Regions from separate parts of the Homo sapiens genome. Here region 1 is linked to region 2. Evidence: fine-mapped expression QTL. A gene starts in region 2. The other region holds a variant in brackets. All regions are shown on one strand. Distances are between the middles of the regions.

Region 1 (4,394 bases), 60 kb before region 2:
ACCAAGGCATCAGCACAACTGTACTTCAGGCTGGTCCGTGCCCTTGCCACCAATGTCCATCCTGACATTGCTTCCAGGTGTGTGCCTGCACCAACAACAGATGGAGGACTCCTCCTGAGCCTGAGTCTAGAGAAGTTCTACATGTTCTGGAGATCCACCCTGAGCCAAGGTCAGGCTCAAACATTCTGAGGGCCCCCTGCCCCAATGATAGGTAGCTCAAGGACTGCCAAACATTTTCCAGAAAATGTTAGAAAGACTGACTAACCCGGACCCCAGGGCTGCCTGGGAATACCTCAACTGTCAAAGAGATGGAGCAGAAGAAAAGCACATCCAAACTAACCTGCCTCTGGAGGAGATGCCCGCGTGGGCCAGGAGAATAAGAGAAGGTCCCAGAACCAGCAAGCACTAGAAATAGCAGGAGATACAGACACACTGTGAAAATTACAACTAACATTAATAAGGAAACGTGATTGCTTTATAAAAATTCATCACTTTGCTTAAGTCTAGGAGTTTCAGACCAGCCTCGGCAACACAACAAGACCACATCTCTAAAAAAACAAATAAATAAAATTAAAATTATCTGGGCATGGTGGTATGCTCCTATAGTCCTAGCTACTCAGGAGGCTGAAGTGGGAAGATCACTTGAGCCCAGGAGTTCGAGGCTATAGTGAGCTACGGTGTGATTGTGCCACTATACCCAAGCCTGGGCAACAGAGCAAGACCCTATCTCAAAAACACCCCCAAAATCATTGATAACACATATGTCCATAAGAAGATCATTATTAAGTATTCCTTGACCTCTGTTCCAGCCTAAACAATCTCTGTTTGGGAAAACTTCAGCTCTTGGTTTTTAAAAAGAAAAGGGAAAGAGAGAAAATAATTTTAAAAAATAGATATGAAGAAAGAAAAATTATAATCTGTTTATATATTCACTCCATCAACAAACAGTGCTGGGCACTGGGGGAAGGAGCGGACAGGCATTCATTCAACCAACAATGGGAACCTGAGTCTTCCAAAGAGTGAGCTTACATCTAGGACATTCAATAGTTTTTGACCTGCAAATTGTGACCTTACAGGACATTCAATAGTTTTTGACCTGCAAATTGTGACCTTATAGTAGTATTGCAGGATCTGGCCAGCAGCCCGCAATGCAATGGGGCTCTTTCCTTGTTCCCAGGTGGATCGGCAGGTCGAGAAATAATAGACATACACAAGATAGTGAAAGCTGGGTCCAGGAGGGTCACCACCTTCTGGTCCCATGAGCCGCCAATGTACTGGATATGCCAGCATTTATTATTAAGTTTAGTGAGGGCAGGGGAAGGTTAGTGAGGGATTTAGGGTCATTTGATTATGAGGTGAGATGGTCACATGGGGATGAAGTAATTCTTTAACATAACATCTGTATGCAGTACAGTATACAGAGATAAGAATTTACAATATAGTGTGTGCATCAGTAATTTCTAACAGAGCCTTAAAACAGAAACACAGTCTTTCTATAACCTATGATTAGCAAGATATTAATCAGCAGTAACAGTTGCAGCAAAAGCTGGTTACAAACAATCCATAGAAACAGGATGTGAAGCTAGACAACCAGTTAGACTAGAAATTCTCAGAAGGGAGTATGTCTTAACCCTAAAGAGGCCTAGAAGAGCCGTGGCAAGATGAGGGCGTTTATAGGCCTGTCTTATCCATATGAACAGGCGCCCCTCATGCGTCCGTTTATAGGCTCTCCACAAGGGTCGCATTCCATT[C/G]CCAGAGCTATGAACATCTGCTTTTCTGGGATAGGAATCTTGGTGATGTTAAACCTCCCTGACTTCAGGTCCGTTCACAGGCTCTCTGCAGGGGGAAGCACATCACATGCTGTTGGCTCATTCTGGCAGTCCAACCTGGCATTGTCTTTACACAATCCTGCATGCAATTTTGTATTTACAATAATCAGAAGCATTTCATCTTTTATTCTGTAGCAATAGTTTCAGGGGGTCTCCCTACATAGTAGGTCCTGAAATCAATTTTAAGGGTCTTGACCAGCACCCTTTAGAAATGAAGTGGAACAGAAAAGAAAAGTCCATACACACCCTGCATGGTAACGGTGAGTATTGTTTTGTGTGGTTTTACTAGTTTTATTTGTGCATACAGGCTAGTTTGCAATGTATATTCCAGTGGGTCACAGTCAAAAAGGTTTGAAAAACACTACTTTCAATACACTCCACCTTGTCATGATACTCAAAAACATACGTACTTTCAATAATGTAGCTGGTGCTTATAGGCACAGGTTGTAGAGTGAGAATGTATACTTTGAATCCCGACTCTGCCATCCTCTAGCTGTGTAACTCTGGGTAAGTTCCTTAACCTCTCTGTGTCTCAGGTTTCCATATATATATATATATATATATATATATATATATATATATATATATATATATATATATATATATGCTATGTGATTAATATTCAACCAGTTCCCCGAAGAATGAAAACATATTGCTTCATACAGAGGCAATTCTCTAAATTCCTAGAGCCATGTTAATATCTGAAAATATTCAAGCCTATTCTTTCTCCTAACTTTTGCTAGAATAAAGTGTCTTTGATGATTTTGATGATGACAATTGAACTTAGGAGCAATAACAAATATTTCTAAATAGAGTCCTTCTCTTGGCCACAAGGTCAAGCTATGAAACAGTTGATGGTAAGCCACAAACCTCTAGAGAATTAAAGTGATTTCTTCAAGAGCCAGGCTTGCAGGGGAAATCTAAGGGCCGGCAGCCTTTCATGCACAGACAGCTCAGCTCTGGCCTTTGTTCTAAGAGACAGCAGCCAGCTCCTGAGGGAAGCTCTCCACTGGTCTCTTTGGGGGTGTGCAATCAAGCTTCAAAGAACCCCCTGATTTGGGCACAGGGAAGTGCATGTTTCTGGGCACCCATGAGACTAAGCAAAAGCAAAACCCAACCACCAAATGGGAACACCAAGGATTCTAAGATTTATGGGGAAAGAGCTCAGAGCAAAAAAGGAGGCTGAAGACAAATTTTCCAATAAGAGACAATACAAAAAATTCATCAAAGAAAATCAAAGGTTCCCAAATTAATTTTCTTGTTTGTGAATTTAGTGCTATGTCATTCCTTAATTCAGTGTATTGTCAGTCATATATTTAAGAGGTGGGAGGGGAAGCTGATTACTGTTTACCATTTATTAGGCAAAATAGATTTTTCACTGCAAAAGCAGTACCCCTTGGGAAATACAACAAAAGAAAACCAGAAAGCAAGACTGGGCTAGTTAGTATAGTCATACTTCTGCCATATAGCACGATATACTATTTATTATAGCAAATTTATACCAACAAGGCACACTTAAACCTAGTTTTTTGAAGACATGGGAATGAGTTGGGGGATGCAGAATTCATCCATGTGGGCTAAAGGCTTAGTATGCAGATTCTATTACCCAGAAACTACATTGAACACTGCACTCATGATTGTAAACACAGTATCAACTCTGAATATTTGGATGCTAATCAAATTAGGTAACTCTTGCCTAGAAATAGTGAGAATGTTTTAATGTTTCAAGAAATATTCAGAGATGAATATAAAGTCGGCTATGTCTGAACAAGTAAACGTCACAAAAATAAGTCTTAATAGCATAATTTAGACTTGATTAAAATGGATAAAGACCACAGATGTGGAAGTCATTGCAGTCCCCATTTGATGCCAGAACTGATATTTTCCCCTCTCTTGATTTAATTCGCTTTGATTACCCAATTATTCCTAAATCCTTTCACTCAGTTTCAGCTCCAATAAAACTGATAACAATGCTAACTCATAATGTGATTTTCACTCCAGTCTCATGAAACTGCTCTATAAAAGCATGCCCAGCAACTTCACAAAATTCTTCCAGATTGTGGTATTATATCATGGGAAAACAGAATAAACCTTCATCTATTCAAAATCAAGCAAGCACAGAAAACCACTCATCAGGAAAATCTGAGGATTCACTTCATCAACAGGAAGATGGTGGCAGGGAAGTCTTGCATTTGTAAGTTTTAAGATTATCAATTGTCGAAACATTTGAAGAAGGCATGGGTAATTTTTTTGTTTTTGAGATAGGGTCTCACTCTGTCACCCAGGCTGGAGTGCAGTGGCACAATCTCAGCTCACTGCAGCCTCTACCTCCTAGGCTCAAGCGATCCTCACACCTCATCCTCTTGAGTAGCTGGGACTACAGGTGTGTGCCACCATGCCTGGATAATTTTTTATGTTTTTGGTAGAGACAGAATTTTGTCATGTTGCCCAAGCTGGTCTTGAACTCCTGAGCACAAGCGATCTGCCCATCTTGGCCTCCCAAAGTGCTGGGATTACAGGCATAAGCCACCAGATAATTTTTTAACTGATTAATATGGTCAAAGA
Region 2 (4,394 bases):
TGTGTTAAAGCCCAACTTATTACACCTCTCCTCCACTTTTGCTAATTTTTCACTCATTTTTTTTCCATTTTCACCTTTGAATTCTCTGAAACAGCAATATTTTAAAACGCTAAAATGGTTTATTTACATCAGTCAATACTTGCTTTTCAACCAAAGATAATTTATTTATATATTAACAGTATCTCAGCTCCTTTTAACGTCCACATCAGCAAGCTCTAGAGAACGTTTGCAATGGACAGGAATGATGGACAGCAATGAGCAGTGGAGGCAGGGAGACTAGGCTCTCAAATTCAGACAGGAACTCCATCTGTCTTCCTCTACCACAACTAAAAGATACCCCTCCCCCAGAACCAAATATGTTATAGATTAGCCGCCCACGGAGGCTGAGGCTATCAATTTTATTTCAGCTAACTTCTACTTCATAGAAGAGCAACTGACTTTATTCCCTGAAATCATACCTCGATGAGCAAAGCAATCTGTCAGAGGCACACCTGAAAGAATACCTCTGCACCTCCTCCACGCCCCCAACATACACATACATGCTGCACACACAGGGGAAGGGAAAGTTAACTTTCAAATAAACCTGCCCCGCAGCCAGTCTGACCACGTTTCCAGACCCTTCACATTCTCAAAGGTGGTTCTTAAACTCTTGCTTAAATCCAGAGGCTGAAATCTGACCTCTATCTGCTGAAGGCATTGGCAAGAGGTCCACAAATACACCACTCCCCACTGCCCCCACCCCCCACCCCTCCCCCCCCCGCCCCCGCTTCCTTGGCCAAAGTGGGAATAATGGGCCAGGCTTTATTGTCTTTCCTTGGGAGAAGCCAGGCCCGGAGGCTGGTGGGAAGCTCCAGACAGAATGTGGGTGTGTGAATCTGTGCGGGCTCCACATGGGAATTTTCAGGGAACTCCAGCGGTTTCGGAGAAGGGCGGCCATAGGCTGGGACGCAGGCACCCTCGCGTTGTCAGATCCTCCTGAAGTCTGGGTGTATGGGGGAGGGGTGCAGGGCTGTCCTGGCAGCTAGGCTCTTTCTCCCCTCTGGGCCATCCCCAGGCCCTCCCACCACAGCTGGGTCACTCACCGCCCGTGAGCTGTGCAGGGCCGAAGCACAGCGCCAGCTGAAACCACAGGATCACGGCCAAGAGTCTCTGGGGGGACTGAGGTTGCTGCTGCTGCTGCTGCTGCTCTAGAAATCCATCTCCATTGCTCGGGTTCATTCCATGATACATCTTTCATCCACAGAGGGCATCCAGCTTGCAAGAGTCTGCAACCAGAAGCGGAACACCACAATAAGCCAGTCTGTCCGGGCTCGGGGGCCACGCTCCCCCTCCTCCGCTCTGGGACCCGGCGCCTCGGCTTCCCAGGCTCCATCCTGGTTCCTCCCCCGCGCGGCCCCCGCCCCCTTTCCCACGGCGAGGTCCCCCGCCTTCCCCCGAGCCGGGTGCACTGAGTAACAGCCGCCGTGGGATGCTGCGCGTGCTGGGGGATGGAGGACAGGAGGGAGGGCAGGGGTTAGCGCACATTGGCTCCGCGCCGGTCCCCGGGATTCAGCAGCTGTGCCCACCACAGGAAAGTCTAGAGCCTCCCCGCGTCTCGGGGCCGCGAAGACACTTTTCCCTGGGCCTATACATTTCACTCTGGGAATCTCACAATGTGGCACCGTCTCCCCCAGCTACTTCTCTGGTTTTCCTCGGGATTGGGATCGATCCTACTGCCCCAGTCCCCAGTGAGATTTCTCTGCGCTGTCAAAAAAAAAAAAAAAATTCTCCCTTGGGGAGCTGCACCAGGCACCAACTCCCCCTCCCCGGCCTGCGCGCGCCTCCTCGGAATGGAAGACCCTTCCGGGACTGTCGGTCTTACCTGTGGGTCTCATGCATGCAGCTTCCTTCCCTCCTCCGCCTCCTCCCCCCGCCAGTCTAACCCGCATCTGTGCGCGACCTCTGCTGCCGCCGCTGCGCGAGCGAGCGAGACGGAAGCTTCGGCGGCGGCGCTCGGCTCCAGCTCCCCCGCCCGCGCGCTCCCTCCCCAGGCGCCCCCGAGCGGGCGGGTGTTGGGGGAGGACGGGAGCCCGGCCGCGCGCCCCCGCGGAGGCGCCCGCGCGCCCGCTACCTGAACTCGCGAGCGCGCGGCGGCGGCGGCGCGGAGAGAGGGAGTGGGTGGGGACGGGGTGAGTGGGGGGGCGGGGACGGGGCGAGGGGTGCGCGGGCGCGCGAGCACGCGCCTCTGCCAACCCAGCCGGCGCCGCGGCGTGGCCGGAGACTGGCGAGGGCGGGGACGGGGAAAGGGGCCCGCCGCCGCGACCAATGGGAAGCCCGCGCGCCTGCACCTGTCGGGGCGCGAGGCGCCGGCGGCCGGTCTTGCACACGCACGCAGCTCGGTCGCCCCTTCCCCGGCGCTGGACTGCAGCCCCTGCCCCGGCTGCGCGCCAGCTCAGGTGCCCGCCCCGGCCTCCGCGCGGCCTCTGGTGCCCCCAGCCCGCGGCGCGGCGCGGGAGAGCGCTCCGCCCTAGAACTACCGCCGCGGCGGTGGCTGCAGACCCGGGGCGAGTGCGCGGCCGGCAGCTCCCAACCCCAGAACTCTCGCCACAGACCCGGTTAACTTGAGCACCGCCAATTGCCCGAGTCTCTTAATTTCCCGCGTTAACCCCTCCCCGCTCCCATCTCCGCCGAAGCTCTGCGCGTCCCCAGGGAGCCCGAAGGACCATCTGAGGCGGCTGAGAGACACTCTCCCCCTCCCCCACACCCTTGGTATTTTCCCTCTGCCAGCCGCAGGTGTTGCGAGTGAGGACCCCTGTCCGGTCTTGGAGATGCGCGGGGCCCTCGGAGCCTTGGCCTGGGAGGCGCTCCCGGGGGCGGGGAGGCGGGGGTAGCGGGTGATTGGTGACACGCAGAAGGTTGGGTACCTGGAGGAGGGGAGGCTTCCGGGGTCGTAGATGGGAAGCCAAGGGGGTCGGTGGTAATTGCCCTCCCAGCCCCAAGTGGAGAGAGTTGGCCTGGTCGGTCCCCTGTCTCTGCGCCGATTCTGGTGTCGGAGCTCAGCCCGCAGTGGTTGCAGCTCTCACTCGCCGCCGGCTCTGATCGCCCGCGGTCGGTTTCAAGATAGGGAAGCCCACATTCCAGCCACAGTGATTAAGAGGTGTCAGCTAATGAGGTGGCGTCCACCGGCAGCGCTTTAGAGCCAGTGACACTCCATGATTCTGTAGCAATTTGTGGATATGAAAACTATGTTCCTGATACAGCTACTAAATCATCCTTTGCTTCTATCGACTTTCCCAAAATCTCACATACTGATGGTAGTTGGGAAATTACAGCTTTTATACTGTGTCAGCTCTTACTGGGAGTAATTTTAACACATTCTTTCAGGATAGATTAGCTTTTAGTAGATAAGTCAAGCTCCGTTATTTTGTTTTTTGCTTTTGCGTGTGTGTGAAATTGAGATGGCAGCTTTGCACAAAATAAACAAGATGTTGACTAGCACAAGTCCAGTTTTGCTACAGCTTGTACTTTGGGACCCCAAAATCTTAGTAGGGGACCATCCACCTTCCCAAGGTCCTGTGACTGTCCTCTACAGTTTGTATATTTATTCCATTTTTCTTTCTTAGTAAATTTTCTAAATCTTTTTAAATATCCACCAAATCAACAACGGTCAGAAATATTTGTTGACCATGCACATGTTCTTAACAATTATAAGAGATATATCTAAGTGCCATTGAAATCTGTTCTTTGGCTGGAGTACAATCTAATTTTAACAGAGAATGTTGGGACTGAAAGGAACATTCAAGTTTATCTGATCCAAACATGGGATCTATGCTTGAGTTTCCTCTCTGACATTTCTAATAAGTGGTCATTCAGCCTCACTGAATACTCATCAAGGTAGCCTGTTTATATTTGCCAGCAGGTCTCTTAGAAAAGTCTTTCTTATATTGAACTGAAATCTACTTCCCTGAAACCTTTACCCACTGATTCTGGCTCTCCTCTGTGGGCCCACGCAGCTAAATAGAATTCCTCTTTCTTAAGAGAGCATCTCATGGCTTTGGAGATGGCTTCGTGTTCCCTTGAGTCTTCTCTTCTCTGGGTCACGCATAGCCATTTCCTTCAGTGCGACGATTCCCAGACTTTTCACCAGCCTGTGGCCTTTCTCTGACCCAGTTTCTCAATGATATCCACCCCCAGCAATCAAAGTTTGTTTCCAGAAAGAGGCCCTACTTTCCCTCTGTGGGTTCTGACCAGTACAGGCCGGTACTGTTGCTTTCTGTATTTTAAACAACTTGCTTCTATTAATTCAGCTGAAGAAGACAAGCATTTGGAGGGCAACTACAGCATAACATATTGTTATTATTATTATTATTTTTAATTATTGTTATACTTTAAGTTTTAGGGTACACGTGCACAAT

Evidence for each region. PIP is the estimated chance that this variant, and not a neighbour inherited with it, causes the effect. A credible set is the group of variants that fine-mapping cannot tell apart.
Region 1: its variant is the best candidate, but not a certain one, in a credible set for the expression of SUSD4 in whole blood (TOPMed, PIP 0.71).

What each region holds. Positions count from the first base shown.
Region 1 is chr1:223,302,423-223,306,816 of GRCh38, forward strand. All of the region lies in intron 2 of SUSD4 (sushi domain containing 4), which reads right to left. Among named protein-coding and RNA genes, the nearest start is that of SUSD4, 60 kb to the right of the region's middle. The variant C/G (reference allele first, on the strand shown) is at 1,752.
Region 2 is chr1:223,362,196-223,366,589 of GRCh38, forward strand. SUSD4 (sushi domain containing 4) reads right to left here and starts at 1,981. Exons shown (of 9, transcript NM_017982.4): 1 at 1,862-1,981; 2 at 1,083-1,265. The coding sequence starts at 1,230.